Homo sapiens: one gene and its partners. The protein of the gene in region 3 purifies or fractionates together with the protein of the main gene of each other region. This does not show direct contact. Each region holds a gene or a part of one and is shown on either strand. Other genes may lie near its edges.

Region 1 (4,320 bases), on a different chromosome or scaffold from region 3:
GGGTGGGGGAAGCAAGCACACAGGGGTCAGAAAGAAAGTGACAGCTGTCATCCCCGTGGGCCTGCTGGAATCACACCTCAGGACCCTTCTGCTGGGACCACCCCACTCCAGAAGCCTCCCACCTCCCTATTCCCGCCCATGCCACATCATCACGGGGGTGTAGAGGGTATTGGGTGTTTCTGCCACTGGTCCGTGGGCCAAAGGGAGCAGAGTGGTAGTGAGGCCGTTGTCACACAAGGCTGTCATCACAGGCCACGTCTGTGCAGTGAGGTGCCACATGCTGCCTGGTGGGCTTGGTGGGGGAGGGAGGGACCCCACAGCCTTCTCCCTTGGGGCTCCCATCCCTCCTGGCTCTGGCTGCATTCTTGCCCCTGCTGGCACCCCCACAGGGAGCCCCTACAGTGCTGGACGCTTTTGCTTGTCCCACTGGCCCCTGTCTAGTGTTCTATACCCCACTCTGTGCCTAGGAGGCTGACCTCTGACCTCTCAGGCTGTACCCTGGGTTTGTTCAATGGGGAAGTGAACTTGAGATGGGGGCAGGAGGAGGGGAGTGTGGGGTGTTCATTCCCAGCCCCCTGCCTCTGCCCCAGGGCCCAGCACCCATCATGTGGCCCCTGCCCAGGACTCCTGCTCCCTGCAGTCAGGGTCTCTGCCGGAGCTAGTTGTGCTAGGGGTGGTCTCCTAACCCCACCCACACCATTGCAAACAGCCCCTCATAACCACACTCATCTGCACCTGGTCTGAACATGCCACCTGTTTCCACAGGCTGCTTCTGCCTCTGTAAGCTCGAGGTAGGGTAGAGTAGGGCAGGGAGGCAGGGGCCCTGTTTCCCAGGCCAGGGTCAGGGAAAGTCTCTTCAAGGAAGTGATCAAATGAGACTCATGAGAAGGATCCAGCCCACAAATATCTGGGCGAGGTGGAAGCAGGTGAGAGGTGGGAGCAGGATAACCAGCCTGCCTCGGGCAGAAGCTGGAGGGGACAGGGCCCAATGGCACCTGGTTTCTATGCCAGGCATGTGGCACCCCCAGTGGGGCGGGGCAGCAGGGCTCTCCCACTGCTCTTGCATCTAAGAGCCAAGGATGGTAGGTGACAGTCACACCACCCTACCTTGCGATTCAAACTGCTCCACGGCCTCTTTCACTGCCTCCTCTGGCCCCATCGCAAACTCCTCGATGTTCTCGCGCACAGCTGCATCAAAGGTCTCCTGGGCAATGCGCTTGGAGACCATCTTCGCCTGTGTTGATGTTGGCGTGCAGCCGATAGATGCTCCTGAGCTGAGAGGTTAGGGCAAAGAGAGAGCTACCTCAAGGGTGAGCAGGCAATGGCAGGGCCTGGCCACCTTGAAAACGCCACTTAGGAAGCATCTACCAGCGACCAGAGCCCTACAACCACCCTGGAGAAATTCTTCCCACCTGTTATCACAGGAAAGGGTGATATCCCTACTTCCCTAGAACTTCTGCAAATACAGAAGAGGCCGGGTGTGATGGCTTAGCCTGTAATCCCGGCACTCTGAGAGGCCGAGGTGGGAGGATCACTTGAGCCTGGGAGGTCAAGGCTGCAGTGAGCCATGATCACACTACTACACTCCAGCCTGGGCCACAGAGTGAGACCCTGTCTTGGGAAAAAAAAACAAAGTGTAGGAGAGAACACAGAGTTTACTACATTTTATCTAAGAAAGGTGGTTCTTTAATATAATGATACTAGTAATGTTATTCTGAAACTATTACGGATGTAGCAAATAATAATGATTATCTTATTAGGAATCAGAATAAAAGAAAAAAGATTCTGGCTGGGCGCAGTGGGTCAATGCCTATAATCCCAACACTTTGGGAAGCTGAGGCAGGAGGATTGCTTGAGCCCAGGAGTTCAAGACCAGCCTGGACAACATGGCAAAAGTCTGTCTCTACCAAAATAAAAATAAAAATTAGCTGAGTGTGGTGGCACATGCCTGTAGTCCCAACTACTCAGGAGGCTGAGGTAGCAGGATCGCTTGAGCCTGGGAGGCCAAGATTGCGCCACTGCACTCCAACCTGGGCAACAGAGCAAGCCCCTGACTCAAAAAGAAAAAAAAAAGATTCTAACATCGTACTATCAACTAAAAACTCGGAACTCCCTATAATTAACAATATTGTATGGTATACTTGAAATTTGCTAAGAGGGTAGATTCTAAGTGTTCTCACCACAAAAAAGAAAAAGGTAACTGTTGATTGAGGTGAGTATTTCACAATCTGCATGCATATAAAATCGTCAAGTTGTATAATGTAAACATATGCAATATATTTGTATCATTTATGTACCATATATAGTATAAGATATACACTATATTAAATACAATTCGCTGGGTGCAGTGGCGCATGCCTGTAATCCCAACACTTTGGGAGGCCGAGGCAGGTGGATGACCTGAGGTCAGGAGTTTAAGACCAGCCTGGCCAGCATGGTGAAATCCCATCTCTGCTAAAAATACAAAAATTAACCGGGCATGGTGGCGGGCACCTGTGATCCCAGCCACTCGGGAGGCTGAGGCAGGAGAATCATTTGAACCCAGGAGGCAGAGGTTGCAGTGAGCCGAGATTGCACCACTGCACACCAGCCTGGGCAACAGAGCAAGATTCCGTCTCAAAAAAAAGTACATCCTATACCTCGATAAAGTTGAGAAAAAAAATCTCAGAACTCCTATATATGAAATGGGAATATCCATATAAACCCATCATGTGTTTTCTCTTAGGTAAACAAAGATCTAATTTTCTAGTCATAGCAACTAAAAATGCCTAGGAGAAATGACAGCACAGGAGCACTGAATACCTCTAACACCATGTATGGTTTCTACCATTTCCCACGAAAAGGAGCTGGGGCCAGGGCTAGGTGGCTCACTCCTGTAATCCCAGCACTTTGGGAGGCTGAGGCAGGAAGATGGCTTGAGGCCAGGAGTTCAACACTAGCCTGGACAACATGGGGAGGCCCTGTCTCTACATAAAATCTTTAAAAACAAGGAGCCAGGGCTTCTGGAGGAATGGCTGATTCCAAGTCCCAGCAGGTCATGGGGCAGGTAACGCTGGGGTCTTGTGAGACCAGGAAGCAAGGAAGCTTCCAAACCCTAAGGGATGCCTGGTAGCTACAGATGAGACAAGTGAGCATTAAAAAAAAATCCAGTACATATCAAAATCAAAATCTGGGCCAGGTGTGGTGGCTCACGTCTGTAATCCCAGCAATCAGGGAGACCGAGGTAGGAGAACCACTTGAGCACAGAGGCGGAGGTTGCAGTGAGCCGAGATCATGCCATTGCACTCCAGCCTGGCTGACAGTCAGACGATGTTGCAAAAAAAAAAAAAAGTCAAACTCTGTGCTTTCATAATACTAAAACAAATACAGCTCAGGCTTCTGAAAACTGGCCAAGAATCCAGCTCTTGGCAGGGAGTGGTGGCATGCTCTTGTACTCCCAGCTACTACTCAGGAGGCTGAGATGGGAGGATCACTTGAATCCAGGAGTTCAAGACCAGCCTGGCCAACGTAGCGAGACACTGTCTCTACAATAATTAGTAACAATTTTTTTAAAAAAAACCTAGCACTTAACCTGCCTCCCTTGTACAAATGAGTCCCAGGTTATAAAAAGAGGATGAGGAAAAGTTCTGCTTCCGATTCCAGCTGATCAGCTGTGACAGGAGAGAAACAGATAATGATCCCACAGGATCCAAAACCATCAGGTGTAAAACTGATGGGAGCCCAACAAGGGGTAGACAGGAACTCAGTCTACTGCTTGATCTCACATCATCAAGAGAAACCAGCAACACCTACCTCCTGAACAAGAACAAAATGCACCTGTGAAGTCATCGTGCCAAAATCTCAAACCCGAATCTGATCATGCATTCAGGGCACTTCCTGCTATGATGAAACGTTCTCTATCTGCACTGCCTAGTACAGAAGCCATTGGCCTCTGTGGCTATCACACAGCTGAAGTGTGGCAGTGTGGCTGAGGAACTGAGTGTGTAATTTTATTTCATTTTAATTTGTTAATGTAAATAGCCATGTGTGACGAGTGACTATGGTATTGCACAGCACAGCTCTGACACCTTAACCAACACCATGGGGATGTGATCTGCAAAATCCCTACTAGGGAAGAGAATGTCAACTAGAGGACAAACACCCAGAGTTTTCAACAAATAAATCACAAGAACAAAGAAAAGGAGACGGAGTCTACCAACAGATGAATGGATAAAATGGTCTGTGCGCATGGTGGTATATTACTCAGCCAGAGAAAGGAATGAGGTGCTGAAGCATGCTACAATGGAGATAGACCTCAAAAACATGATGTCTCGTCAAAGA
Region 2 (4,320 bases), on a different chromosome or scaffold from region 3:
AAATACTCCAGCAGAATGAGATGCTCCAATAGACAAATACTCCAGCAGACTGAGATGCTCCAATAGACTGACATACTCCAGCAGACTGAGATGCTCCAACACACTGGCATACTCCAGCAGACTGAGATTCTCCAATAGACAAATACTCCAGCAGACTGAGATGCTCCAACAGACTGGCATACTCCAGCAGACTGAGATGCTCCAATAGACTGCCACACTCCAGCAGACTGAGATGCTCCAATAGACAAATACTCCAGCAGACTGAGATGCCAAAAAGCAAAGTACACTGAGGTGCTCCAGCAGGCTAAGATGCTCCCATGGGCTGAGATGCTCCAGTGGGCTGAGACGCTCCTTCGGGCTGGGATGCTCCCGTGGGCTGAGATACTCCTGTGGGCTGAGATGCTCCTTTGAGTTGGGATGCTCCCGTGGGCTGAGATACTCCTGTGGGCTGAGATACTCCCTTGGGCTGGGATGCTCCAGTGGGCTGAGATGCTCCTTTGGGCTGGGATGCTCCCATGGGCTGAGGTACTCCTGTGGGCTGAGATGCTCCTTTGAGTTGGGATGCTCCCGTGGCCTGAGATACTCCTGTGGGCTGAGATACTCCCTTGGGCTGGGATGCTCCCATGGGCTGAGATGCTCTTGAGGGCTGGGATGCTCCCTTGGGCTGAGATGCTTCCAGGGGCTGAGATACTCCTATGGGCCGTGATGCTCTTTCGGGCTGATATGTTCCTTCCCCCACTCCTTCATCGTGGGCTAACGCTCTCCCTTGTCATTTTCTCCCACAGATGTTTCCCCTGACAAACGTCCTGCCCACCAATCCCATCTCGGCAGAGCTGAACTGTGGCAGAGGTGCAGGCTGGCAGGAATGGATGTGCCCTGGGCTGCTGCAAGCTCCTGTCCCCAATCACATCCATTCATGCAGCCCAACTGCCTCCAGGGGCCTCAGAGGGCAGCTCTCATCACCACTTCCGGCCACTGCAAAAGCTGCCTGGTGAGTGTTTTATGATGCTGGGGAAGGTTGAGAAAGCAGCTGTACTTTTCTGCATGTTGTTGGGGAAATCACATGCCAGAGAAGTATTGTGGGATGTGGGAATAAGGGAAAAAGGATTTGGGGACACAGCCTCCTGGGCACATGGGGTCTCTGGCGTTCTCCCGGGCTGTTCCCATCTTCAGAGTGGCCCTCGCACCCTACCCCCCTACCACTTCCTCGAGGCAGCCATCCCCCAACACTGTCCTCCTGGCTCCCGCTTTCTGCACGGCCCCTTGGCAATCCTGTCCATGTCCTGTGGCTTCAAAACTCAACTGCACGGACATGAACCACCTTCTCCTGACGGACCCCAGAACCTGCTGACAACCTGAGCCCCCGAGCCCCTTAGCCGCAGCACCCCAGAGGGCCCGGCCTCCCTCTACCACCCCTGCTTCACTGTCTCTGAGGGACGGACCCTCCTCCAGGTGACTTGTACTGGCAGCAGGGACAACCTTGACCCTCAGATGCCGTCACTTTCTCTCTTGTGTGTGTCCCTTCCTTTCTACACCAACGCCAGAACCCAGGGCCTCATCCTGAACCCCTATCCCAGGGCAGCCACTCCTGAGCCTCCTGTTCCCAGGCACATGACACTGACAGTCGTTTCCCACAGGCTCCCATTCTCCCCATGCAGCCCTTCCCCAAGGCTCCCCACGTGGCCTCCGCCCTCCCCGCCTCCAGGCTCTCCACGGGCCCCGCCCTCTCCCCAAGCACGCGGCCCCCACCCTCTCCTGGCCAGGCCATACTTCACCCGCCCGGCCCCTCTCTCCTGTCCCGGCACAGACACCTCACACTGGCCTTGGTTCCCTGACAAATGGAGTGGAAGTTCCGAGGCATGGGTGCAGCCGGCACTCCTGGATCCCGGCCTCCCCTCCAGCCTTCTCTCTCTGTTCTCCCCTCAGACCTAAAGGCGAGTGCTGGACGCCCCGCAGGAGCCCCACTAAAGGGCCCCAGTAACGGAGGCCCGCCCGGCTCCGCGGTCCTGGGGGACAGCAGCCTCCTGGGGGAGCAGCTTCGAGTGTAGGCCCTGCCCAGCGCCCCGCGGCGAGTGGGCGCCCGGCGGGCGTGTGGGTGGAGACGTGAAACCCCGTCCCTCCTTCAGCCTCAGGGCCACTCAGGGAGTGGGCATCTCTTGGGATCCTGGGAGACCCACGTACTTAAGAAGAGCATTTTTTGGGAACTTGGCCCCTGCTCGCAGGCCAGTGATCCGCGTTCCGGTCTGTCCCGGTGCTGGAGACAAAGGGGCCTCATCTGTGCCGTGCTGGCTTCTCCGGGCACAGGAGGCCCGGCCCCTTCCTAAGGGATTTTCACCTCAGGCCGCCTTCCTCTGTAACCTGGACGCCATGTGCATCCCCTGGAGCCGCCCCTCTATCGGGTGCCCTCCTCAGTCCCCTGCCACCACCACCCTCACCAACCTCTACCCCATTCTTCCAGGCCTCACCCCTCTGCCTGAGGCCTGCTTGCTCCCGCTACCTGCCCGCAGGGGTCTCGGCCTCTCTCCCGGTGGCCTCTTGGGGTGCCAGCTGGAGGGTGGGTCTGGCTCCAGCGCCCCATTGACCCTCCTCCTTCCATTGCCCCTCTCTGTAGCCGCCCCCTGTTGTGCCCGACCCGTGCCTGTGGGGCTGACCGAGGAGTGAGGTGCCGCCCCACACTGGGGTCACCCACCTATGAGCGGATCCAGGGGCACTCTGCCGAGGAGAGGGACCTCCAAGTCCTGGCACATGAGCTCCGCGCCCCCGGTTGTGGGAGGGAATATCTGAGATTCTTTCTGCAAGGCAAATTCAAAGGGGAGGAAACATAATTTTTTTGCAGAATCACAAGGATGGACCACATTTTAAAGAAACTTAAAAAAAAAAAAAAGGCTTAGTTTGAATGTGGAACCCTTAACACCTAAAGAACTTTCCTTTAGTCAGCAGAAAGGGATTTTAATTGTGATTCCACTTCCCAAAATGACAGGGAAAGCAGAAATAGTTTGCAGAGCAGCCTTCCGATCGTTTCCTCATCCATGAGAGCAAGATCTTGCTCGCCTGGCAGCCCCACGCGCCCTCACCTTGCACTTAGGACAGATGAAGCCACTCATGTTCTCCACCACCCCGATGATGGGCAGCTTCACCTTGCGGCAGAAGTTGATTTCTTTCCGGACATCCTGGAGTGACACCTCCTACGAAGGTGAAAAGACCAGTGATTCCAGCATCAAAGTGCGAGAAAGGGAATGTCTGTGCAACCGAGGGGATGGCTGCAATGCAGTGGATCTGCGATCATAAAGCCTTAGAGGTTTCTGCCCTGATAGGGTTTGGCTCTGTGTCCCCATCCAAATCTCAGCTCGAACTGTAATCCCCATCATCCCTACATCCCTACAGGAACAGGCAGTTCCTGGTGGGAGGTGATTGGATCATGGGGGCAGTTTCCCCCATGCTGGTCTCGATAGTGAGTTTTCACGAGATCTGATGGTTTTGTAAGTGTTTGACAGTTCCTCCTACACACTCTCTCTCTCACTGCTGCCACTGTGTAACATGTGCCTGCTTTGCCTTCCACCATGATTGTTAAGTTTCCTGGGGCCTTCCCAGCCATGCAGAACTGTGAATCAATGAAACCTCTTTCCCTTATAGGTTACCCAGTCTCAGGCAGTTCTTTACAGCAGTGTGAAAATGAACTAATGTATGCCCTCTGCCAAATCCATATTTATTTAGTACCTACTAGTGCTAAGCCCTGTTTGTTCGAGGTGCTATTTACTTCCCACACAGCCAAATAGCAAGAAATCAACCTAAAAGAAAATGACTTTTTTTTTTAGAGACAGGATCTCACTGCTGCCCAGTCTGGAGTGCAGTGGCATAATCATTGCTCACTGCAGCCTTGACCTCCTGGGCTCAGGCAATCCTCCTGCCTCAGCCTCCAGAGTAGCTGGGACTACAGGCATGTGCTACTCTGCCTGGCTAACTTTTTAATTTTTTATAGAGATGGTTGTTGCCCAGACTGGTCTTAAGCTTCTGGTGTGAAGTGATCCTCCTGCCTCGGCCTCCCAGAGTGTTAGGGTTAGAGGCGTGAGCCACTGTGCCTATCTGAAAATGACCTTTTAACGCATCTACATGCTCCATGTCCCTATACTATACTATATTAAGCCAGTGTGTGCACTGTTTTCTAGACCAGAGCTTGGCAAACCCCAGCCTGGGGGCTGAATCTGGCTGGTTTTATAAATAAAGTTCCTCCGGAACCAGCCATGCCCGTCCCTCTAGGCACCGTCTGTGGCTGCTTCATGCCACAGTGGCACGGCTAAGGGGCTGGGACAGGGACCGTGG
Region 3 (4,320 bases):
GTGCTGGGCTGCTGGAAGGGGCTTACAAGGGGAGAGGCCCCTGGGGATCTGGCTTCCCCTTGCACCTCCACTGCTGTGGGAGGAAACTGAAGAGACCTGTGGAGCTCCTGGCAATTTGGACAGCTCAGGGGTTTAGGTGCCAAATGGCCCTCTGACAAGTGATGAGAGCATCCTGCGGGAAGGTTGCTGAAGAGGAGCAGCCCATTATGAGAGGGCTCCGAGAACAACCTGCTAGGACTGCACTTTTCCTCCACCTCTGAGTTTGCCCGGAGGCTGCCATGCTGGCAGGAAATGCTGCTGACTAAAAGAAACGCTCCCTGTGTGTCCCAGCCAGTGCGAGGACAGAGGCCTTCATTTTCAGATAAAGTCATCACCATTGCTTCCCTGTCTCCTTCTTTCCCTCTTTGCTTTTCCCTCAGTTTATAAATATTCTCAAGCCTGTCTCTTATGTTTAAATGACAAAAGAGAACAAAACAAAACACTCTCCCTACTTCTTTCTCCTCTGGCTACTCGGTTATCTCGTTTCTTCCTTTCACTGCTAAATTGTTGGAAGGAACCTCCCATTCCCTCTCAGCCCACTGCAGTCTGGCTTCTGCCCTTTCCCTAAGAAACCCAAGTTACTCTCTGAAATCACTGTGACTCTTCTGTGGCCAGAGCCAGTGGACACTGCAGTCCTTTTCTCTGCTCTCTGCAGGGTTAGGTGCCATCTTTCATTCTCCTTTTGGAAAGGCATTTGCTTGAGCTTCCATGCCATGCCTTCCTTCTGGACTTCCTGTACTCCCTTGCCTGCCCCAGATCCACATCTCTGTCTGTCTGAAGCTTCAATTACCACATCAAATGCTGAGGGTCTTCCTGACTGTATACCAGTGTTTGGACTACCTTTTTAATGTCTTCGTTTGAATGTTTCACAGGAACTTCATACAGTTAAACTCATTGTCTCTCCACCCTGGCCTCAGTCCTAATCTTGTTTCTTCTATATTCATCATCTTTAGAGCCCTCAAGGGCAAAACCTGCTGGCCATCCTATACTTTCCTGTCTTTGTCCATCTCTCACATCTGTTTGGTCACCAAGTCCTAAATACTCCACCTCCTTGAGATCTTCTTTGATTTGACTCTGACTCTTCATGTCAGCCACCACTGGTTTAGTTCAGGCCCTTATCGATTCTTATTTGGATTATTGTAATAATTTCCTAACCAGGTTCCTTTTTTCCATTCTTGTTTCTGGCTGTAGTGTGCATTGCTACCAGAAAGATACTGCTATACCAAAATTCTTGATCACGTTGCTCCCAGGCTGAAATGCCTTTAGTAGCTCTCCCGTCACCCTCAAGACTTAATTTGAAGCACAGTGTTTAAGGTCTTTTGGGAATTGTCTCTTGCCTCCCTTTTCAGCCACATCTTGTAATTTCCAGTCTCAGGACAGACTCTCCAGCCAGTGGGAACCTTTTGCAGTTGCTGAAATGCCTCTTCTAGGCAAGATTTCCCTCTGCTTGGAACACCATTCCAAGACCCTTCCCTTCCATTTTTCATCTATGTAGCAAAGAGCTCTGTCTTTTCTTTTAAATATTGCCCTTATTGAAGTATAATATGCATGTGGAAAAGTGTACATATAAAAAATGTATATCTTGGTGCATGTTCATGAATTGAACACACCATGTAACCAGCACCCTGACTGGGCCTCTCTTCTCATACCCTGAACAAGTGATTTCTTGTCACACAAACAATCTCTGCCTCTAGAGCCCCCCTCCCCCCTTGCCCTTCAGGCTCTGTTGGGTCTTTCGCTCCCTGGCAGTTGTCACACTATCTGCAAATTGTATTTTCCTTGCCAGCCTGGCTCTAGACTGTTAAGTCTTCCTTGAGGACAGGGTCTCTCATCTCCCTACCCTGCATGTCATAATAGATATTTAATAAATGTTTTCTGGATGAAGTTCTGAGTTTTGGGGATAAATACTCCTTCCTCACCTTGTGGAGGAGGAACATTGCCTGACGTCTAAAAATTTGCCTCACTGGATCCTGAGGATTTGATCTTGCCCGTGGTTAATGATGGGGTTTATTTAGTTGCGTTTGGGCCAATCAGCTTAAAGGGCTCTGTAGAAATTAGCTCATTAATCCTCACAGATCAAGAGTAAGCACTTTGAGTGCGTCCACCTGCCTGTGTTGTGGAGGTAGGCAGGCAGAGGCCTGGCTCTCCTGAGGTCTTAGGACTGAGAGGTGGCCTTTCTGGCTGGATTAAAGGACCCAGAGCTCCCTGCCACAGTTCTGGCATCCGTAGACATTGTAGGGTGGAGTGGGGAAGTCCCACACTGCCCTTCAAAAGCTCTAGAGCTTTCTTTTCTTTTGTATATCAGTGATCTCTCTCTCTTGCTGTTCATGTATTTATATATAACACTCACCTTGAAGTTCTGTGGAGCCTCTTCCTGTGTAGGAATCAGGGCTGCTGGAGACGATCAGGGATGCAGGTGAAACACAGGAGCAGAATTGCAGAACAAGTGGCTTTCAAAGGTTGTTAGGATGGCAGGAGTTCTATTTTTATAACTTATAAGGGACTGACATGATAGGATGGCTGTGGTACCTGCTAAGACCATAGAACCGGGTCATTCTAATAGATGTTATAATTCCTTTACAGTGTACTTTTTGGGAAAGTTTTTTTTTCCTATTTAAATAAAATTCTCCATGTAATCATGTGAAGTCATACGTTTTCCTCTAGGATAGTTGTGTTTAGATTATACCAAAACAGCTCTTAGTTGAAGTGATTCAAGTGTTTCTTTTTTCCCTATCTGCCATCAATTGGCCAAGTTTTTGATACTAGACAAGAATTCAATATATTAATTAAAAAGTCATTTCAGACTTGGCTTAACTGAAAAGCAGAAGAGAAAAATCCTTTAGAGAATGGATTGGCATACTTTATTTCTAGAGTCGATTTAGATAAATACTTTGGAATCCGATGTGAGTAAATGATATGTTTCACATTTCTTCTCACTTGCCAAACAGTTATTTGAGAATAAACTCTGGCTTAGCTTTAAGAAACTTCTTGGACATTGAGGATTGAGATTAATTGACCTTTTAAACTGATTGTGTATTTTGATATATGGGAAAACATTTTAAGATAGAAATGGTAGAGACCTCTACATTCATATTATCCCTGACTTTATTTTCAAACTTCTTCCAGGTAAGTGGCATTTAGTATAACTCTCAGAAGCCTAGTATTGGGGGTGCTCATGTGATTCTTCCCTTAGGTAAAAAATATACATTTTATTGACATTTATGGGTTTAGGTTTCTAACTTTTAGTTACCACTGGAGCTATTTGTCAGAAAAAACTAGATGGAAAGTAGAGGTGGATGACTTTCTGCCCTGTGAATGATAGATCTTCATTCAGGGAGTATTTTGGAGCCAGTGACCTGTGACAGTTGTGAGACTTCTCATAATCATTCTGTGGATGGTTGGGGTCTTAGAAGAAGTAATGATTTTGTTTTGAACTGGTTGCATCAGTTTGAACCAGAGTTTGTACTAAGGGTATTCCAACTGCTTTATTTCCTACTCTGTTTAGTCTGGGGATTGAAAAAGGATTACATTTTGGGTAGGTTGGTGCCTATTGACCTATCCTGTGTAGCTTAGATTTTAATTTGAATCATCTGGTTCTCTTTCTTTCTCTCAGGCAATGTCACTATCTCTGTTTGTTTAATTATGGGGTGACTCAAGAAAGCAAAGGAAGAGGAGCAGCAGACGGGGTTTCCTGGGGAAGGAATGGCAGGTCATGGCTGGTTTTTATAAGTGAGTTCCTAAGTGAGAAGTGGTACAAGAATATAGAGAGAATTAGGAAATTTAATTTTAGAAGAGACCAAAGGAAAAAAAATCCATCCCAGCTGCTTTGTCTTGTAACTGAAAACTCTCTAATGGCCAAAGTTGAAGAAACTTGCCTATGGTCCCAAAGTCCTTAGAATCCCAGGCTCCAACCCTTCATGCTAAAAACTCTCAATAAATTAGGTATTGATGGGACGTATCTCAAAATAATAAGAGCTATCTATGACAGACCCACAGCCAATATCATACTGAATGGGCAAAAACTGGAAGCATTCCCTTTGAAAACTGGCACAAGACAGGGATGCACTCTCTCACCACTCCTATTCAACATAGTGTTGGAAGTTCTGGCCAGGGCAATCAGGCAGGAGAAGGAAATAAAGGGTATTCAGTTAGGAAAAGAGGAAGTCAAATTGTCCCTGTTTGCAGATGACATGACTGTGTATCTAGAAAACCCCATTGTCTCAGCCCAAAATCTCCTTAAGCTGATAGGCAACTTCAGCAAAGTCTCAGGATACAAAATCA
Region 4 (4,320 bases), on a different chromosome or scaffold from region 3:
AAATGTAATCAGATTCCTTTAAATTACCAAATTGATTCATCATTACCACCGACAAAAGTGCTAAATTCAATCTAAGAAAAACTTAGAAGTTCTATGGTGGTTCCAATGGGATATATGATATATCATTTTATACACAAGCCACACATAACATTGACGAATACTGCCAATGTCAAGTATGCTCTTTTGCTTTAGAGAATTTCCACCAAATGAAGACCAAAGCTCACCTTTTTGGATTCAGTTAGTATAAGCTCTTCCACTTCCTTTGTTAAGACTTCATCTGGTAAAGTCTTAAGTTTTGTAGAAAGGAATTTAATTGCTCGTTCTCTAACAATGTCCTCTCCTTGAAGTATTTGGCTGAACAACCCACCTAAAGTCCCTGCAAAACAAAATAGTTGCCTGTAGCAAGTCAATTCTATAGTGTAATGGTGTTTTCCCATTTAACTCAATTTATAGTATTTCTTCTCAAATAAGTTAATGAACTTCCCAAATATCATCCTCATTACTAGTTAAAAGTAGTCTGAAATTTCTACAGCCTGAACCATAAGAGTGCTTTCTTCATGAAGACATAGTCAGCTTAAGCATGACTTTCCTTTTTTATCATTACTAATAATAAAACCCAGGTATTTTGGAAGAATTTCTTGAAAGTGTCAAAAGGAGTTCTTCCAACAGATTTCTAATGGAAAAACGTGATCTGTTTTTGCAGTTATTTCTGCTCGTTTTTCTAGTCATAAACATCTTGACCTAAGGAGACTTTTTTCACAATACTTAGAATTTTTATGAAATAGAACTCTGGGTAAACCCTAGAGTTTATTCTTAATGAGTAACACCTAACTTTGTGATTCTGTAAGACATCAAACACAATTCAGAATAAGAACTGGCCTTACCTTTTGCATCCATTTTAAATATACTTAATAGGGCATTGTTCACTAGGTTAAATTCTGCAGAGTCATCTGGATAAAGAAAAAGTGGCATAATGAATATAAAACAAATTTAAAATATCATCTGCTTCAGTTTCAAACTTGATTCAACTTAGTTTCTCAAGGTTACATTGACAGGAAACTTATAACTTAAGCCATTCCCTCAAGTACCAAAAAGATACGTGTTCCTTGTAAGTTGAGAACCCGATCTGGCATGCCTGAAAAACTTTTATTAAGATGCTACAATTATGAAACTACAGGAAATTGGGGGAAAAATTATGATATATCAAAATGCCCAAAAGAATCTAGTCATTACACCTTCATAACGGAATTAAAAACAAAACAACACCAGGAATTAGATAACCAGAAATCATTACACTTTAACTACTGAATGAAAGTAGGAAATTTAATCTCTATCAGAGGTAGGACCTCCAGCTCTCCTGCACCCCATTTAAAACCTAAAAACAGAGTCAACATTTCAGAAAGAAGATATATATTTAGAGAAAAAGGTAATAATAAAATCCCTTACCTGTCTGCAAAAGTTGCGTTAGTATATCTGCCACTCGAGGAAGATTTTCTCCAGTGGCAAATTGAGGCAGTTCTTTAATTGCTTGACGTCGAATCTGGGCATGATTTCAAACAAAAATTAACCAAATACTATCACCTTTAAAATAACAAACAGCTTTTTCTTTTCTTTCTTTTTTTTTTTTTTAAAGACAAGGTATTGCTCTGTTGCCCAGGTTGGAGTGCAGTGGTGCAACCATGGCTCAATGTAGCCTTGACCTTCTAGGCTCAAGAGAGCCTCTTGCCTTAGCCTCCCTAGTAGCTAGGACTATAGACGCAAGCCTCCACGCCTGGCTAATTTTAAAGGCGGATTTCCCTATGTTGCCCAGGCTGTTCTCGAACTACTGGGCTCAAGTGATCTTCCCACCTCAGCCTCCCAAAGTGTTGGGATTACAGGCATGAGTCACCATGCCCAGCTGCAAACTCAACTTTTTAAGAAAACTAAAACCACAGAGAAGCCATCATTAGGGGCATACGAGTCACAAAAATATGAAACAGCAGATTTCTAGCAGTTTTAAAAAGAATTTGCTCCAATTGGCCGGGCGTGGTGGCTCACACCTGTAATCCCAGCACTTTGGGAGGCTGAAGCAGGTGGATCACGAGGTCAGGAGTTTGAGACCAGCCTTGCCAATATGGTGAAACCCTGTCCGTACTAAAAATACAAAAATTAGCCAGGCGTGGTGGCACACGCCTATAGTCCCAGCTACTTGGGAGGCTAAGACAGAAGAATCGCTTGAACCAGGGAGGCGGAGGTTGCAGTGAGCCAAGATTGCACCACCGCACTCCAGCCTGGCCAATAGAGTAAGGCTCCTTCTCAAAAAAAAAAAAAAAAAAAAAGAGAGAATTTGCTCCAATTTAATCTTCAAGTTACACAGAATAAAATATAAAAAGGGATGTTAACAATGTCTCGCTGAAGGAGACAGATTTGAGATTATAAACAACTATTTACATGCTAATTATATGCAACTGTTAGGTTTTTACTACCTATGGGCTTATAATATAGTATTCCTAAAAAATGGCTACTGTGGCAATGTTATACCTAGTAACTGTTTACTTTAGAATTTTCAGTATTGACTACTAAATACAACATTTGTGGCTATATTCTGCATGTTTAATTCCAAATACTGATCTTGGCTTATTCGATTTTTACATAAAATATGTACAGCGGGCCAGATGAGGTGGCTCACGCCTGTAATCCCAATGCTTCAGAAGGCCAAGGTGGGAGGATAGCTTGAGGCCAGGAGTTTGAGACCAGCCTGGACAACATGGCAAGACCCTACAAAAAAATTAAAAATCAGCTGGGAACGGTGGTCTGTGCTGCTTGGGAGGCTAAAGTGGAAAAAAATGCATGAACCCAGGAGTTCAAGGCTGCAGTGAGCTATGGATGTGCAACTGCACTCTGGTCTAGGCAACAGAGTGAAACCCTGTTTCTATTAAAAAAGCAAAAAAAGTATAGGGTTTATATCCAGCAAATTCTGCATGAAATGTTGGCAATTCGCTGTTTCATCTGAAAAGACAAGAGCTAACGGCTGAATATTCTTAGGAACCTGTGTCAGCAGCCAGAAATATTACTGGTTAATTCTGTTCCAAAAAACCCCCCAAAAACCAAAAAACAAAAACTATTTCTTTTTAATCTAGTAATCCTATTCACTTATTACACATACCATTTTTCTGCCATGCAAAATATATAAGGGTAGTGAAACTACATTTTATGATATAACACTTAATAATTTAAATATCCAAGTAAGCACAAATTGATTAAAAACAGTCTAATTTCATATGCACAATGAATAACAATCTATGAAACAAGATGTGAGCCACAACCCATTTTTAACAGTGGATAAATGATAAGCGAAACTAAGTATTTTGAGATTCTATGCATTTTTCATAATTTAAAGGTGTTGAAAAAGGCTAATACACTTTATCATATGTAAATTTAAGCCTGGGTGTGATGCCATGCCAGACCATACCATAGTATTTTATTGTGTACTCTGATATATCAGATTGCTACTCCAATTGTATCAGCCACATACAGAAACATCTGAAAGATTGCTATGAAGTGTCATTCATAAACTTACAGATACATCTTCATCCTCACAGAGGTCTAACTGTGCATTGATAGCAGAATCAGCCAATTCTGGAAAATGCTTAAAGAATTTCGGAATAAATTGAGCTGCTAATCGCTTTTCCTTAGTACCACCTTTCACACCATCCAATATCACTTGATAGGCATCTTTATGCTGAAATAAAAAATAAAGCAGGAAAGACACATGATTTTGAAGGATGGGAAGCAAAGTAAAAGACCATAACAAACATGTTAGAGTGTGCTTTAAATTTTTACACAGGCTAAGAAATAAAGCTGATTTTGGGAGGTTTACTGCTCAAACTGACACTTACCTTCCCAATTCCGTTCTCCCTCCATCTTTGTTTCATTTTTGAGTTGGGGGAGATGGATGAGTCTAATTTTAAGTGGAAAAAGCAAATGTGTTTGTTAATATGCCAATACTTCTTCATTCTAGTGATTATTAACTCTGGCCATGTGACTGTATCATGCTTAAAAAATTTGTAATGGGCCAGGCGTGGTGGCTCACGCCTGTAATCCCAGCACCTTGGGAGGCCAAGGTGGGTGGATCACCTGAGGTCAGGAGTTCAAGACTAGCTTGGCCAACATGGTTAAACCCCGTCTCTACTAAAACACAAAAATTAGCCAGGCGTGGTGGTGTGCGCCTGTAATCCCGGCTACTCGGGAGGCTGAGGCAGGAGAATTGCTTGAGTCCGGGAAGCGGAGGTTGCAGTGAGCTGAGATCGTACTACTGCACTCCAGCCTGGATGACAGAGT
Region 5 (4,320 bases), on a different chromosome or scaffold from region 3:
AAGTTAATTAGGGATGTAAGTCACTGACACACTTGACAATGTTTTGTGGATGGAAGATGCAGGGACTGAAGAGAGAGGACACTGCAGTAGGGTCTCATTCTCTAGTGAGAAGGCAAAAAGATAAAGCAGTGCCTCTTCTCAGTTGCCCTGGGTCAAATCCACTCAGAAACCAGAAGACAGGACAGGAAGGTTCAACCAGATTCCGTCAGGTTTTAGATGAAAGAAGGTGCTGAACAACTGCATGAAGGTGGGTTAAGGTCCAAAGACTGAGAAACTACTATTACATCAAAGGGCTTGGGGAGGAACTTTTAGTTCCTAGTTTTCTGAGGTAGAAATGCTCCCAGAACATTCTCACTATAAAGACCTTAGGAAACCACAGGACAAGTGTAAAGAAAGAAGGCCTCTCCTATGAGCCCACTTCTACACCTACAGAGGCTGACAGACATAAAATATTTGTAGGAAATGCCCTTCCTCAGAGGTGCCATGGTCCTGAGGGACTGGCCAGAGGTGGGCATCACCCAGCTGTAATACTGCTCTGGACAAGCCTCACTCCCCTCCCCAGCTCCCTGTAATTCTTTCTCCTTCATCCTAGTTGGCATCTCCTATACCCATTTGGTGACGTAGTCTTCTTCTTATTCCCTGGCCACTCAGAAAGTTGAATGGCATGAACACACAGATACCCAGAGACCCAAAGGAGAGATCGGGTAACATGCCCAAACAGCGAAACCAGAGCACTCACACGCAATCTCATCCAAGGCAGTGACCACAAACCACATGACGTTCCTCTCAGCCATTTTCAACCGAAGGTCTGCAACCTTGTCCTTCCAGGAGATGCCTGCAAGAAACAAATGTGCTTTAACTCCAGCCCTGGTCCCAGAAAGCAGTAGGAACCCAGTGAAAGAACCTACCCTAAACATCTTTAATCAGCACCATTTCTTACAGGAGCACGCTACTTAAACAGGCAGGAGGCCTGGATTCAAGCCCTATACAAGAAGTGTCCAAGCCACTTGACTGTCGTGAGCCTTGATTGCCTCACCAGTAAAATTCATTCATTTACGCATCCCACAAATGCCTGTGTAACATCTAGATCTGCCAGGCATAGATACGTGCCAGGCACTCTGCTGGTCACTGTGGTTACAGATCTGAGCCAGACCCAGTCCCTGTCTTCATGGGGCTTACAATATAGAAGGGAAGACAGATAATTAAACCAGCAATTAACACACTACTGTAAATACTGATGCAACAGGGGACACACAGGGACCTATATCAACACACTACCCAGCAAAGGGAACTCACCCAGTCTCAGGGGTCAGGGGAACAGCACCCACCACTTGATGTTCCTGGGGGCTGCAAGACTTGCCTTTCAGTGCTAAGACCTAGGAATTCCCTGTAGTCTGACTCACTGTGATTACCACTTCCAAATCACACTTGCCCTTTCAGACACTGCCAAGGCCTCTCTGTTGCTCTGCAAGATGAAATCGTGGTGCTAGAGGAGCTCACCCCATTGCCACCACAACCACCCTACCAGGGCAGCATTCATAACTCAGGGAACAGCCACCTGTGAGCAGGGTGGGCATCTGTCTTATTCACTCAGCACCTCGCACAGCATCCTGCAGATAGTAGGCACCCAAATGTGTACTGAACAGCAACATTTGCTCTCCCCTCTCCTATAAGCAACAAGTCAGAGCTTCTGCTCTAGTGAAAAAAACTTCAAACCACGCTGATGGAAAATATTTAGCTGACCCTGGGCCACTCACTGGACCCATCCTCCCCATTCCGCAATACCCCTCTGGTGAGGATGTCACACAAGAAAGCAGGCTGGGGCTGCCCCCACACCCAGGGCTGCACTGAAGATCAGTTCGGGAATGCTGTTTAAAACTTGGCCCAGAATCTAGGCTGTCACGCTTTCTTCCCAGGACCCCTCTGGGCAATCTGCCTACATTCCACAGCCATCCCCCATCTACCTCTGTTTCTACAGCAAGACGCCCTCCCCTGCAGCCCCACCTCCAGGCCTCTCTCTCTGCCCCCTCACTGCTTCATAAATCCACACAATGGTTCAGAGAACATGCTGCTTACCCATCACTATCGCACAGGCCAAGGAAACACACCCACACCCCAAAGCCTCTAAAGCAGAAGGTACAAGATGGAGGACAAAGGCCTAGGAAGGTAAATCTACAAATGCTGACATAAGAAGGGAAATGGAACCTAGAAACCTCTATGCTCTATTTCCAATATCAAATACGTTCGAGTGGCAGTTAGCAGCTGAGTGGATAAAAAAAACTCAGTCTTTTCAGCAGCACCCAAAAAGCCACCCAAACGAGCTTTGCGAAAATAACCAAAGCCAAACTAAGTGGCAAGTAGGTGGCAACAGTGGAAACAAACAAAGCTCCTGCTTCTTCAAATATCCCACTGGGGCAGAGTAGGGCAAAATCCTCCTGTCAGCTCCAACTCGACTTGGATTCGGAGGACGAGGCTGGAGACAATAGCAAGAGGTGGGGGGACAATGGCAGGGGCCCTGCTGGGCAGAACCATTGATTCTGACCTGTGTAATCCAGGCCCAGTGTGAGGAGAGGCTTGCAAGGGCGCTCAGGACGGTCTGTCCAGATTTTGTCAACGAGGTTCTCCTTGACAGGAATGAGGTGATGGCCGGCACTTCTCAGAACTTTGGCCATTTTCTTCCAATAATCTGAGGAGACACATTGTGGCCCAGCCATGAGCCGAACGCCCATTGCAGCAGGGCAGGGAGCAGGGCCTTGAAAGTCCAGAACCTTCAGAAAGGTGGTCCTGCCATGGCCCAGAGCTGGGTGTGCAGGATGAGGAACTGTAAAAGCACATCTTCACCACCAGTGGAACTCTTCTCTTCACCCTGACCTCTACTATAAAATCAGTCATGCTGAGCCCCCCAGTGCTCCACACCCCACAAGCAAATGAGGAGAATGGAGGGGAATCTAGAAGCCACTTCCTTACCCAAGCAGAAAGGGACCAAGCTCACTTACCTGTAGGAATGATCAAGGGGTCCACACCAACCCTGGATCCTTCAGGAAGCACACTCACCAGCCAGTCTTCCTGAGTTGGTGTGTCCTTCAGACCTACAGGGGGAAGAAATGATAAGAAACAATTCCCAGTGGGCCCACGCTCATTATCCCACCAGAAAGATACAATTCTCTAACATCATGATAGCAGGGTCTTTATTAAGCAGCTTCTTTAAAGTGGATTGACAGGACTTAGAAAATCTGAACCTCCCTTAATCCTGGAAGGCTACAGAGAGGGAGAAGTGTAAGTTTTTGTGTATGAAAAACATAAGACAAGGGTGAGACAGAAGGGAAAAAAGTATGATTTTTCACTTGACCCCTTGTAAAAATATCTTGGGGATCACTGCCACGTACACACATGGCGTCACCACAAAGATTGTCTCCTCAGCGTTCAGTCACTTCCCCACTACTGGTCACTTGATGAGAATTTGGGCAGTGATTTGGTGAAGTCTGGGAACTGGGAGACTCCCACATATCACATACCAGGTAAGGTGATAACATGCTCCCAGTGCCCGCCCCTCATCTGCAAGGGCAGGGTGGCCAAGAGAAGGCCGCTGCCCCATAACCAGCCTCTGAATAGAGGGCTAAGCACAAGTCTTGGCAGCAAAGAGATCTTTCCGAAGATTTTAAGAGAGGCACACAGGCACCTGTCCGGTTGTCTTTATTTATTTATTTACTTCTGAAGACAGAGTCTCACTCTGTTATGCAGGCTAGAGTGCGGTGGCACCATCTCAGCTCACTGCAACCTCCACCACCTGGATTCAAGCAATTCTCCTGCCTCAGCCTCCCAAGTAGCTGGGATTACAGGCTCAAAATTACCATGCCCAGTTAATTCTGTATTTTTAGTAAAGACGGGGTTTCACCATGTTAGCCAGGTTGGTCTTGAACTCCTGGCCTCAAGTGATCCTCCCACCTCAGCCTCCCAAAGTGCTGGCCATCCTGTTGCCTTTAACATGAGCCTCTGGGTTCCCCAACTCCCAGGATGAGACAGCCCTTTCTGTTTCTAAGACGCTAGTCATAGGACACTATATCAGCCTCCAGAATAGAACTAAAATTACTTCTATAGTCCAGTTTTCCTTTAATCTAAGCCAACACCTTCCATATCTAGCCAGTTATCTTTGAAATGTATACTTTTTTTAACCAATGAGGTTTTGGCCAAACAATTAACATCTTGATAAAATATACATATATTTAGAGTAAAAGTTCACATATTCTAAAACAGTAGAAACTTATCTTTACTATTTTCTCTACTGACTACTGATACAACCACATAACCATAGAAGGGAAG
Region 6 (4,320 bases), on a different chromosome or scaffold from region 3:
GCTCAGGTTATTGATATCTATATATCCACTGAATATTTTTCAAAAGAAAGGACATCTGAAAATAAACAACAGAAAACAGATACCTTTTAATGATAAAAGCAAACCTTTCTCTCATCTCTCCTTCTCAGAGAGAAGTAAATTTTACTTCTCTGTGGGTCTCATCAGTTAGGTATGTGCTGAACAGAGGAAGAGAAAACGGCTGAATAAAATAGTGACTTCAAACCAAAAAGAAACGAGTAGCATAACAAGTGGGATAAAATCCAGTGTAAGAGAGTAGCAGGAAAGCTGAGAATTAGGTTCATAACTTAAGACTTTCTCATTCTCACTGAAGGACTGGAAACATGAATTTTGTGCTAGAAGCTACTTGAACTTTGAAGTCATATAGATCATCCAGCAGATAAACAGACTGGAAATTCCTGTTTAATATGTTTATCTTTGAAGCCATTTTGCATGAAGTGATTCATGTCAAAATGTTTTCAAGGAATAACAGATTGTTGGGGAGAAATGGTACCGGTCTCTAGCACTCTTGATTTTTTTTTTTTTTTTTTTTTTTTTTTTCAAGACACAGCATCTCACTATGTTGCCCAGGCTGATCTCAAACTCCTGAGCTCAAGCCATCGGCCTGCCTCGGCCTCACAAAGTTGCTGGGATTACAGGCGTGAGCCACCAAACCCGGCCTAACACCCTCAATTTTGAGGGAATACATTGAGTATGTATCAAATCCATGTAATATTATCTAGAAATCAACTTTATGACATCATGTATTTTCAGATGTCTCTGGACTTTTACATTAAGAAGTGTCTTCCTGTGGCACATCTGTTTTCAACCTGAGGAGACATCGTTGCAAAACTTTGTATTACATGGCGTCTCATATTTCTGAGATGGATCTAATTTTGTAAGGATGCTTTCTAAACTAATTACAAAACATTTTTGTAGTTGCTCAAAAATTTTTGAAGGGTTAAATGCTCAAGAATTTAAGGGCCAACTAGAAAAACATTTAAGTTAATTTGATCCTTTTTTTGCCCCATGTCACTATATGCCCCAATTACCTGAACTGACCACTATTTTTAATAAAGTAATTGGGTCAGTCAATATTAATGTAACATTAAAAGTCAGTTTAGGTTATACAAAATAATAAATACCATTAATGGAAAAAAGGAAAAACTATTTGTCACAGGTAATAAATATATAAATTATGTAAATAACTTTCACTAACTTAGCCAAACTGTCACTTATCCAGGGATGCTTAACTAGAGTTAAAAAATAATCATGCATTTAAAAAAAACCATTACTTAAATATTTATGTAAACAAAAGGCATCTGTTGTTCAGAAGCACAGTCATGCCATGCAATACAGGACTGAAGCAGTAGCAAAGACAGGGCTGTGGCTTCCAAGACTAAAAAGTATGGTAGAAGAATTAGTAAAGAAAGGAAATGGGAAGGGAAAAGGAGGGAGCATGTGGATGGGACCTGTTTCGGACCCACTGGTATCCTATACTGTTCTCAGCTGAGAGCTATGAAACAGAAAAGTGGCAGAATACTTTAACCTTTTGCCCACTTTTTATCAAGTAATGTAAATGATGTTGGATGATCTTAAAATGACTCCTTACACTATTTTTGTATTTTGAGATGAAGGCTGCAGAAGAGTAATTACGTTCCCAAATCACCATAAATACCAGTTTACAAGAAATACATTTTGTGCCAGGCTTTAACAACAATTTGAGATTATTTGTGCCTGCTAGCCTGCTTCCAGTTACCCCCGGAAGTGGAGAAGTGCCTCCAGACATTTTATAGTCTTTATAAGAAGTTTCTAAGGCCACAACAGCCAATCTGGGGGGACAAGATTATGGACATTAAACAGTGCAAAGAAAATAATGGAAATCTTTGGGGTTTTTTTGTGTTTTTTGTTTTTGAGATGGAGTCTCACTCCGTCACCCAGGCTGGAGTGCAGTGGCGCAATCTCGCTCACTGCAAGCTCCGCCTCCGGGGTTCACGCCATTCTCCTGCCTCAGCCTCCCAGAGTAGCTGGGACTACAGGCGCCCGCCACTATTTTTTTTTTTTTTTTTTTGTATTTTTAGTAGAGACGGGGTTTCACCGTGTTAGCCAGGATGGTCTTGATCTCCTGACCTCGTGATCTGCCCGCCTCGGCCTCCCAAAGTGCTGGGATTACAGGCGTGAGCCACCAGGCCCGGCTGGAAATCTTTGTTTTTTAAGAGTTAAAGAAGGTAAGAAAAGCCAAGTACTATTTATTACCCCATAGCCTTTTTTTAAGGATACACATGGATGAGGAATCTTAAAAACTTCAATTATCTTAAATATTAGAAAAATTTGCCAATAAGCTTCATAGTGTTTCTTCAGACTTCAACAATATAGGCACATCAGTAGTGGGCAACACCCTGGTCAGTGTAGCCCAGGCACAGCAGCAGCATCAGCACTGGGAGCTCACTAGACAGGCAGGGTCTCAGGCTCCACCCCAAACCCAATGAATCAGAATCTGTACTTTAACAGATTTCCAGGTGACTAATGTGCACATTAAAGTCAGAGAAACATTCCTCTAGACTCTGAAGAAGAAAGATAAACCACCCTCACATTCAGTTCAGCTATCAAAATAACATGGAACTACAAAATAATAGATCCATAAAGAGAGCCTAGCTTTGGATTCAGCCATTACATATGCTGAATTTCCAATCGAGTATGTTCCTGTCATAAAAAGGGTAACATCTATTCTAAAAGATTCCCACGCAGTTTATATTTTAAAGTTCAAAGGCAATTAGGAGTTTCGTCTCTCACACCATTTTCTGGACTATTTTTCCTCAAGTTGTGCTACTATTTGCAGGATTAATTATGTTGCATTGGCTAAAGATATCATACCTTCCCAAAATATTTTAAAATTTTAATAATGGCAACTGTCAGTTGGACCCTATGCTGTAAAATATGGGCTTTAAAAAAAAATCACTGGACAAATTAATTTTGGAATCTCAGTTCACTACTGCTATTGAACCTTTCATTTGGGAGTGTAACAGTCAGATAACTGTTGAGCTTTAAAAGACCCATTAAGGCCGGGCGCGGTGGCTCATGCCTGTAATCCTAGCACCTTGGGAGGCCGAGGTGGGCGGATTACCTGAGGTCAGGAGTTCAAGACCAGCCTGACCAACATGGTGAAACCCCATCTCTAGTACAGGTACAACAAATTAGCCGGTGGTGGTGGTGCACGACTGTAATCCCAGCTACTCGTGAGGCTGAGGCAGAGAATCCCTTGAACCCAGGAGGCCAAGGTTGCAGCGAGCCAAGATTGCGCCATTGCACTCCAGCCTGGGTGACAGAGCAAGACTCCATCACAAAAAAGCAAAAAACAACAACAGAAAAACCATTAACTGCTAGCTAGAGAGAGTTTGATTAATACTTGTTAATGAACCTTTAAAAATTCTGATGCAGTGATATTTTAAACAAAGAAGGAAAATAAGCAGAATGCGACTTTGTTTTGTTTTCTTTAGAACTTGTTTCTACGCAAACCTTATGGATTTGTAAAAATATTCCATTGATAATATTTTGTACTCACGTTGTAGATATGTAACTTTTAGAATATACAACTGATAGATAAATCAAATATGCATATCGTGTTCCATTAATACAAGATTTAAGATTCAAGTGAAGGGATTATGGGTATTTCAAAAGATAACCAAGTAATATGAAAAAAGTTTGAGTTCCTTATGAGTAAAGCTTGTACTTTTATGACTTAGCCCAAACCTGATGATCAGTATAAAAGGAATATATATCATAAAACCATGAGTACCAAAAGTCTTAAAATTATTAGGTTTGATTTCAAAGCTATTTCTAAAACTATAGGGGAAAACAGTTTTTAAAAATCAGTAAAAATGAATGTATATTATCTTTCAGAAATTTCAAAGCACCTAATCTTAGTCTGTGTTCCAGGATTCATTCTAAGTCTTTTGTTAAACTGTAAGCTCTTTAACTAAAATTTGAGTTTGATGTTTTAAAACCCTATTTTCTTTAGAAGATATGTACTTGTACATTTTTCTTCTATTCTAAACCCACTCACTTTTTACATTTTTATATATTAAAAGACACAGTTAATTGAGGTACCTTATAGATCTAACCCCTCTCAGCAATTTTAACTTTAACCCTATCAGTTTTACTGCAATCTGGTAAATTCAGAGAACATAAGAGGGAAATCGGATAGTGTTGTTTTGAATCCCCCAGTTTAACATGTATAAATAACAACTTTAAATGAAAAGACACCAAATTGGGTATTTAAATGATATGCCTACATAGCTTCTTGCAACTAGCTAAGCTATATAG
Region 7 (4,320 bases), on a different chromosome or scaffold from region 3:
CAAGAAAATAGCCAGGTGTGGTCATACACACCTGTAGTTGCAGCTAATTGGGTGGCTGAGGTAGGAGTATCACCTGAGCCCAGGAGGTTGAGGCTGAAGTGAGCCATGACTGCACCACTGCACTCTTGCCTGAATAACACAGTGAGACCCTGTCTCAAAAAAAAAAAAAAAGCCACTTTTGCAAAGAATAAAATTTACAAAAAAAGGTTTAATAAAACCCTACATATGTGGGTTTTAAACATGGAACAAAAACCAAGATATGTTATATAAATTTTAATGAAAATTATACGTAGTAAACACACATGCTTTAAATGCACATATACTATTTGCCAATAATCACTGAATTATTATTATGAGCATACATTAGCTCTTTTCAAAGTAGTACTTTTTTCCAAACAGCACTTTCAAAGTAGGAAATAATACATTCTCATTTGTGAATGAATAAAAAATGCTACATGCCAAAGGAGAGTGCTCTAGTGGTTATATACTTCACTGCTAAGAAAAAGCAATTTTACAGAAATAAAAAACATATGAAAAAGGCCAGGCGCAGTGGCTCATGCCTGTAATGATAGCACTTTGGGAGGCTGAGGTGGACGGATCACTTGAGACCAAAAGTTAAAAGACCAGCCTGGCCAACGTGGCAAAACCTGGTCTCTACTAAAAATATAAAAATTACCCAAGCATGGTGGCATGCGCCTGTATTCCCAGCTACTCGGGAGGCTGAGACATAACAATCTCCTGAACCCGGGAGGCGGAGGTTGCAGTGAGCCTAGATCATGCCACTGTACTATATATAGCCTGGACAACAGAGTGAGACTCTATCTCTAAATAAATAAATAAATAAATAGCTGTGAAAAAACCCAAAAAAACAAGACGTTGCGCACCAATTGAGCCGTTCAAAATTATAAAAGTGTTCACGAAAACAATACAAGGAAAACAGGATCTACAAACTGAAGTATTTCTAAAGCTACAAATAAAATAACTTCTGGTTTTACTCATCTTAATACTGTAAAATAAGTAGGCAAAGAGCAAAACTTACCCTATATGTGTAACAGCTTCTCTGTTTTCACATTCAGTAGTCCATATTGCTATCTTATCACCTTTAGCTCTAACATTAACAACAGCGCCACATACATCATCACTGTAGTCATCAAAAGATTCTCCAATAAGGCACAGAAGCTTAAAAAAAAATCCCAAATTACATTTAATAGATTATAAACAAGCTCATTACACTGCAAATGTCTCTTCTGTATTTGCATAGAAACTAAAGGCAGTTTTTAAATCAAGAGTTAATTTTTTAAATGTGTAAATTTTATTTGCATATATTGATCTGTCCTGACTTTTAAATACTCATTCATTTATTTACTATCAAATCAGCCTTTTTCAGCAAATTTGGCAGTTAATGTCATGGCAGACATAAAAGCTGATTTTATTAATATTCATTTGCTCTGCTGCTGCTTATATTTATGAGCAAACAAATATTAATAGAATAATAAAAATAGCTATTCATGGTTAATCTCCTCTTGTTCTTATTTTTTATGAATATTTGTTAATGGTCTGGTTTTTTGTTGTTGTTGTTGTTTGAGACAGGGTCTTGCTCTGTCACCCTGGCTGGAGTGCAGTGGGATCATCACAGCTCACTGCAGCCTCAACCTCCTGGGCTCAAATGATCCTTCCACCTCAGCCTCCTGAGTAGGTGGGCATACATACAGGGACATGTCACCATACCCAGTTAATTTTTGTATTTTTTGTAGAGACAGGGTTTTGCCATGTTGCCCAAACTGGTCTTGAACTCCTGAGTTTAAGTGAAATGCCTGCCTCAGCCTCCTGAAGTGTTGAGATCACAGGTGTGAGCCCAGCCCTAACAGATTTCTTAATTGTGGTAAAATACAAATAACATAAAATTTACCATTTTAACCACCTTTAAGTGTACAGTTCAGTGGTGTTAAGTACATTCAACATTGTTGTACAACCATCCCTACTACCATCCATCTCCAGAAGATTTTTTTTAACTGCAAAATGGAAATGTCCTGACTTTTTAATGTGGAATTCAAAAATGGTATTTGCTCATGATCTTCCCCCTCAAAAACAGAATTTTCTTCTTAAAAAGTCATTCATTCATTAGCTGGCTGTGCTGGCATGCACCTGTAGTCCCAGCTACTTGAGAGGCTAAGGCAGGATGATTGCTTGAACCCAGGAGGCTACAGTGAGCTATGATGGCCCCACTGCACTCTAGCCTGGGCGACAGAACAAGACCCTGTCTCTAAAAAAAAGCAAAATAGTCACTTATTCAAACATTTAAAGTGATTAACTTAACAAGTGCTAACTATAAACCAGGCACGGTTTCAAGTGCTAGGGATACAAAAGAGACTACAAACCCCGCTCCTATAAGCTTGGGGTTTGGAACCTCTGTCTACAGAAAATGCTTATTATCTCATATTTAATTTGTCTTGTAAAGCCAGAAGTTCCAGTTAATATCACAACATGTAGGTCAAATGGTAGTACACAACAATTTTATTATTTGCTTCACTAATCTAAAAAGTTTAGTGGGACAGGCACAGTGACTCACACCTGTAATTCCAGCACTTTGGGAGGCTGAAGTGGGAGGATCACTTGAGGCCAGAAGTTTGAGACCAACCTGGGCAACATAGCAAGATCCCATCTCTGGAAAAAAATTAGAAAATTAGCTGGGCATGGTGGCATGCACCTGTAGTCCCAGCTACTTAAGAGGCTGAAGTGGGAGGATCACTTGAACCCAGAGGGTGAGGCTGAAATGAGCCATATAAATAAATATCCGCACTCCAGCCTGGGCAACAGAGCAAGACCCTCGCTCTAAAAATATAAGTATTTAAAAGTTTAGTATACATATAGCAATGCTGTAAGAGGGTTGCAAAAACTTCAATCATACAAAATGTAAGGTTCTATAATTTTGAGGTTAATGAAATGACCACAGTGAGCTTACTGTGGTGAGAGTCAACTGCCAATCACTTAAAATATCTGACTTATAATGTGGTAGGATGTTTCACTGTACTATAAACAGGAGTCATATGACAGAACAAAAATAATTACTGACCCTGATTTTCTAGTGTTGGGCATCCTTCTCTTAAATTAAGTAACAAATGTAAAACATAACATATCTTAAGTATCAGTATTCCAAAACTACCTCTAAAACTGCTTTATACTTTTAAAACCTTACTGTCTCTAGCCAAAAGCGATCGAGGTCACTTCGTCTCTGCTGTTTGTTCAATGTAATTAGCCATCGTCCTCCCCGTTTGTTTTTCTCATCTTCCCACATAGGCTCAATACCATCCTACAGGGTTAGAAGACAACAGTATTACACAACATTGTTACCTTGACTTTGAGAGATAATCATTAGAAACAGTTAAGCAACAACACTGTCAACTTCTTACTTTATTGCCCATAAAACTGCCATTGATGTAGTTTTTAAACAGCACATAAGACTTAAAGCCAGAGGCATGACATTGCAGAATTAGAGTCCTGGCTTTGTCACTTATTAGCTATCAAATCTTGGGTTTCACTTAATTTGAAGGTTCTTAAACTTTCTGAGAAGCAAACATATTTTAGAAGCTCTGTACATTTCTACAGCTAGAAAATACATGCAAAAACTATGCAATTTCAGTTAATGAATGTCCCGTCCCTCTACCAACTGACAAAGCCCAATAATAAGTATTCCAAGGACCCATGCTCCTAAGGTTAAGAATGCTTGATAAACTCAGTCTGCTCAAATATATAAAGGAAGGAGTAGACTGGATAATCAAAGCTCTCATCAAAATCAATCTCAGTATGTGCCCACAGAGTAACTCTCTCTCAATTTTTATAAACAAATAGAATAAGATATATTGATACTAAAGCATACTACAGCCAATTAAATTATCAGCCTATTCATCACACTATCAAATATTCCTAAGTTTATGGTAAGATTTCTTAATGAATACCAAATGGCCCAGTCCTATAATAAATATATAAAATCACCAATTAAGCATACCTTAAAAAGTGAGTAGTCACAGCCAGGCATTAAATTACTAGACAACTGGATATGGTTGTACAGACTAGGTAAAAGAAAATAACAATTAAAAACACAGAATATGTAATATAGAGTTTAGGTGCTTACATATATATACATTTAGAACATATGATGAAAATAAACAGATAAAAGTTCATGTTTACTTGTTTCTAAGGAGTCAATTTCTAAAATGGACAAAACAGATCTTAAAAGCAGTTAAATAATCAACTTCAGATGACAGGTATAATTTTCAAAAAAACTTCTAGTGACTGCTCTGACAAAAATATATTTTATGT

Evidence for each region.
Region 1: the proteins of STK39 (region 3) and ARMC6 purify together in Homo sapiens (co-immunoprecipitation; one large-scale study listed by IntAct). This does not show direct contact.
Region 2: the proteins of STK39 (region 3) and NUBP1 fractionate together in Homo sapiens (co-fractionation; one large-scale study listed by BioGRID). This does not show direct contact.
Region 4: the proteins of STK39 (region 3) and API5 fractionate together in Homo sapiens (co-fractionation; one large-scale study listed by BioGRID). This does not show direct contact.
Region 5: the proteins of STK39 (region 3) and XPNPEP1 fractionate together in Homo sapiens (co-fractionation; one large-scale study listed by BioGRID). This does not show direct contact.
Region 6: the proteins of STK39 (region 3) and CD46 purify together in Homo sapiens (co-immunoprecipitation; one study listed by IntAct). This does not show direct contact.
Region 7: the proteins of STK39 (region 3) and EIF4E purify together in Homo sapiens (co-immunoprecipitation; one large-scale study listed by IntAct). This does not show direct contact.

What each region holds. Positions count from the first base shown.
Region 1 is NC_000019.10:19,039,665-19,043,984, reverse strand, and holds part of ARMC6 (armadillo repeat-containing protein 6), read right to left. Parts: intron 1,300-4,320; exon of another isoform or gene 1,275-1,299; coding exon 1,108-1,274; intron 1-1,107.
Region 2 is NC_000016.10:10,760,229-10,764,548, reverse strand, and holds part of NUBP1 (cytosolic Fe-S cluster assembly factor NUBP1), read right to left. Parts: intron 3,638-4,320; exon of another isoform or gene 3,186-3,637; coding exon 3,075-3,185; exon of another isoform or gene 2,981-3,074; intron 2,793-2,980; coding exon 2,690-2,792; coding exon of another isoform or gene 2,686-2,689; intron 2,033-2,685; exon of another isoform or gene 1-2,032. UniProt on the Homo sapiens protein: Component of the cytosolic iron-sulfur (Fe/S) protein assembly (CIA) machinery. Required for maturation of extramitochondrial Fe-S proteins.
Region 3 is NC_000002.12:168,237,288-168,241,607, reverse strand, and holds part of STK39 (STE20/SPS1-related proline-alanine-rich protein kinase), read left to right. Parts: intron 1-4,320. UniProt on the Homo sapiens protein: Effector serine/threonine-protein kinase component of the WNK-SPAK/OSR1 kinase cascade, which is involved in various processes, such as ion transport, response to hypertonic stress and blood pressure.
Region 4 is NC_000011.10:43,318,041-43,322,360, reverse strand, and holds part of API5 (apoptosis inhibitor 5), read right to left. Parts: intron 3,941-4,320; exon of another isoform or gene 3,879-3,940; intron 3,722-3,878; coding exon 3,560-3,721; intron 1,541-3,559; coding exon 1,447-1,540; intron 951-1,446; coding exon 885-950; intron 377-884; coding exon 225-376; intron 1-224. UniProt on the Homo sapiens protein: Antiapoptotic factor that may have a role in protein assembly. Negatively regulates ACIN1. By binding to ACIN1, it suppresses ACIN1 cleavage from CASP3 and ACIN1-mediated DNA fragmentation. Also known to efficiently suppress E2F1-induced apoptosis.
Region 5 is NC_000010.11:109,885,507-109,889,826, forward strand, and holds part of XPNPEP1 (xaa-Pro aminopeptidase 1), read right to left. Parts: intron 3,090-4,320; coding exon 2,997-3,089; intron 2,687-2,996; coding exon 2,543-2,686; intron 836-2,542; coding exon 740-835; intron 1-739. UniProt on the Homo sapiens protein: Metalloaminopeptidase that catalyzes the removal of a penultimate prolyl residue from the N-termini of peptides, such as Arg-Pro-Pro. Contributes to the degradation of bradykinin.
Region 6 is NC_000001.11:207,786,109-207,790,428, reverse strand, and holds part of CD46 (membrane cofactor protein isoform 3 precursor), read right to left. Parts: intron 177-4,320; coding exon 125-176; 3' UTR 84-124; exon of another isoform or gene 68-83; intron 1-67. UniProt on the Homo sapiens protein: Acts as a cofactor for complement factor I, a serine protease which protects autologous cells against complement-mediated injury by cleaving C3b and C4b deposited on host tissue.
Region 7 is NC_000004.12:98,883,883-98,888,202, forward strand, and holds part of EIF4E (eukaryotic translation initiation factor 4E), read right to left. Parts: intron 4,071-4,320; coding exon 4,007-4,070; intron 3,311-4,006; coding exon 3,197-3,310; intron 2,665-3,196; coding exon of another isoform or gene 2,572-2,664; intron 1,180-2,571; coding exon 1,040-1,179; intron 1-1,039. UniProt on the Homo sapiens protein: Acts in the cytoplasm to initiate and regulate protein synthesis and is required in the nucleus for export of a subset of mRNAs from the nucleus to the cytoplasm which promotes processes such as RNA capping, processing and splicing.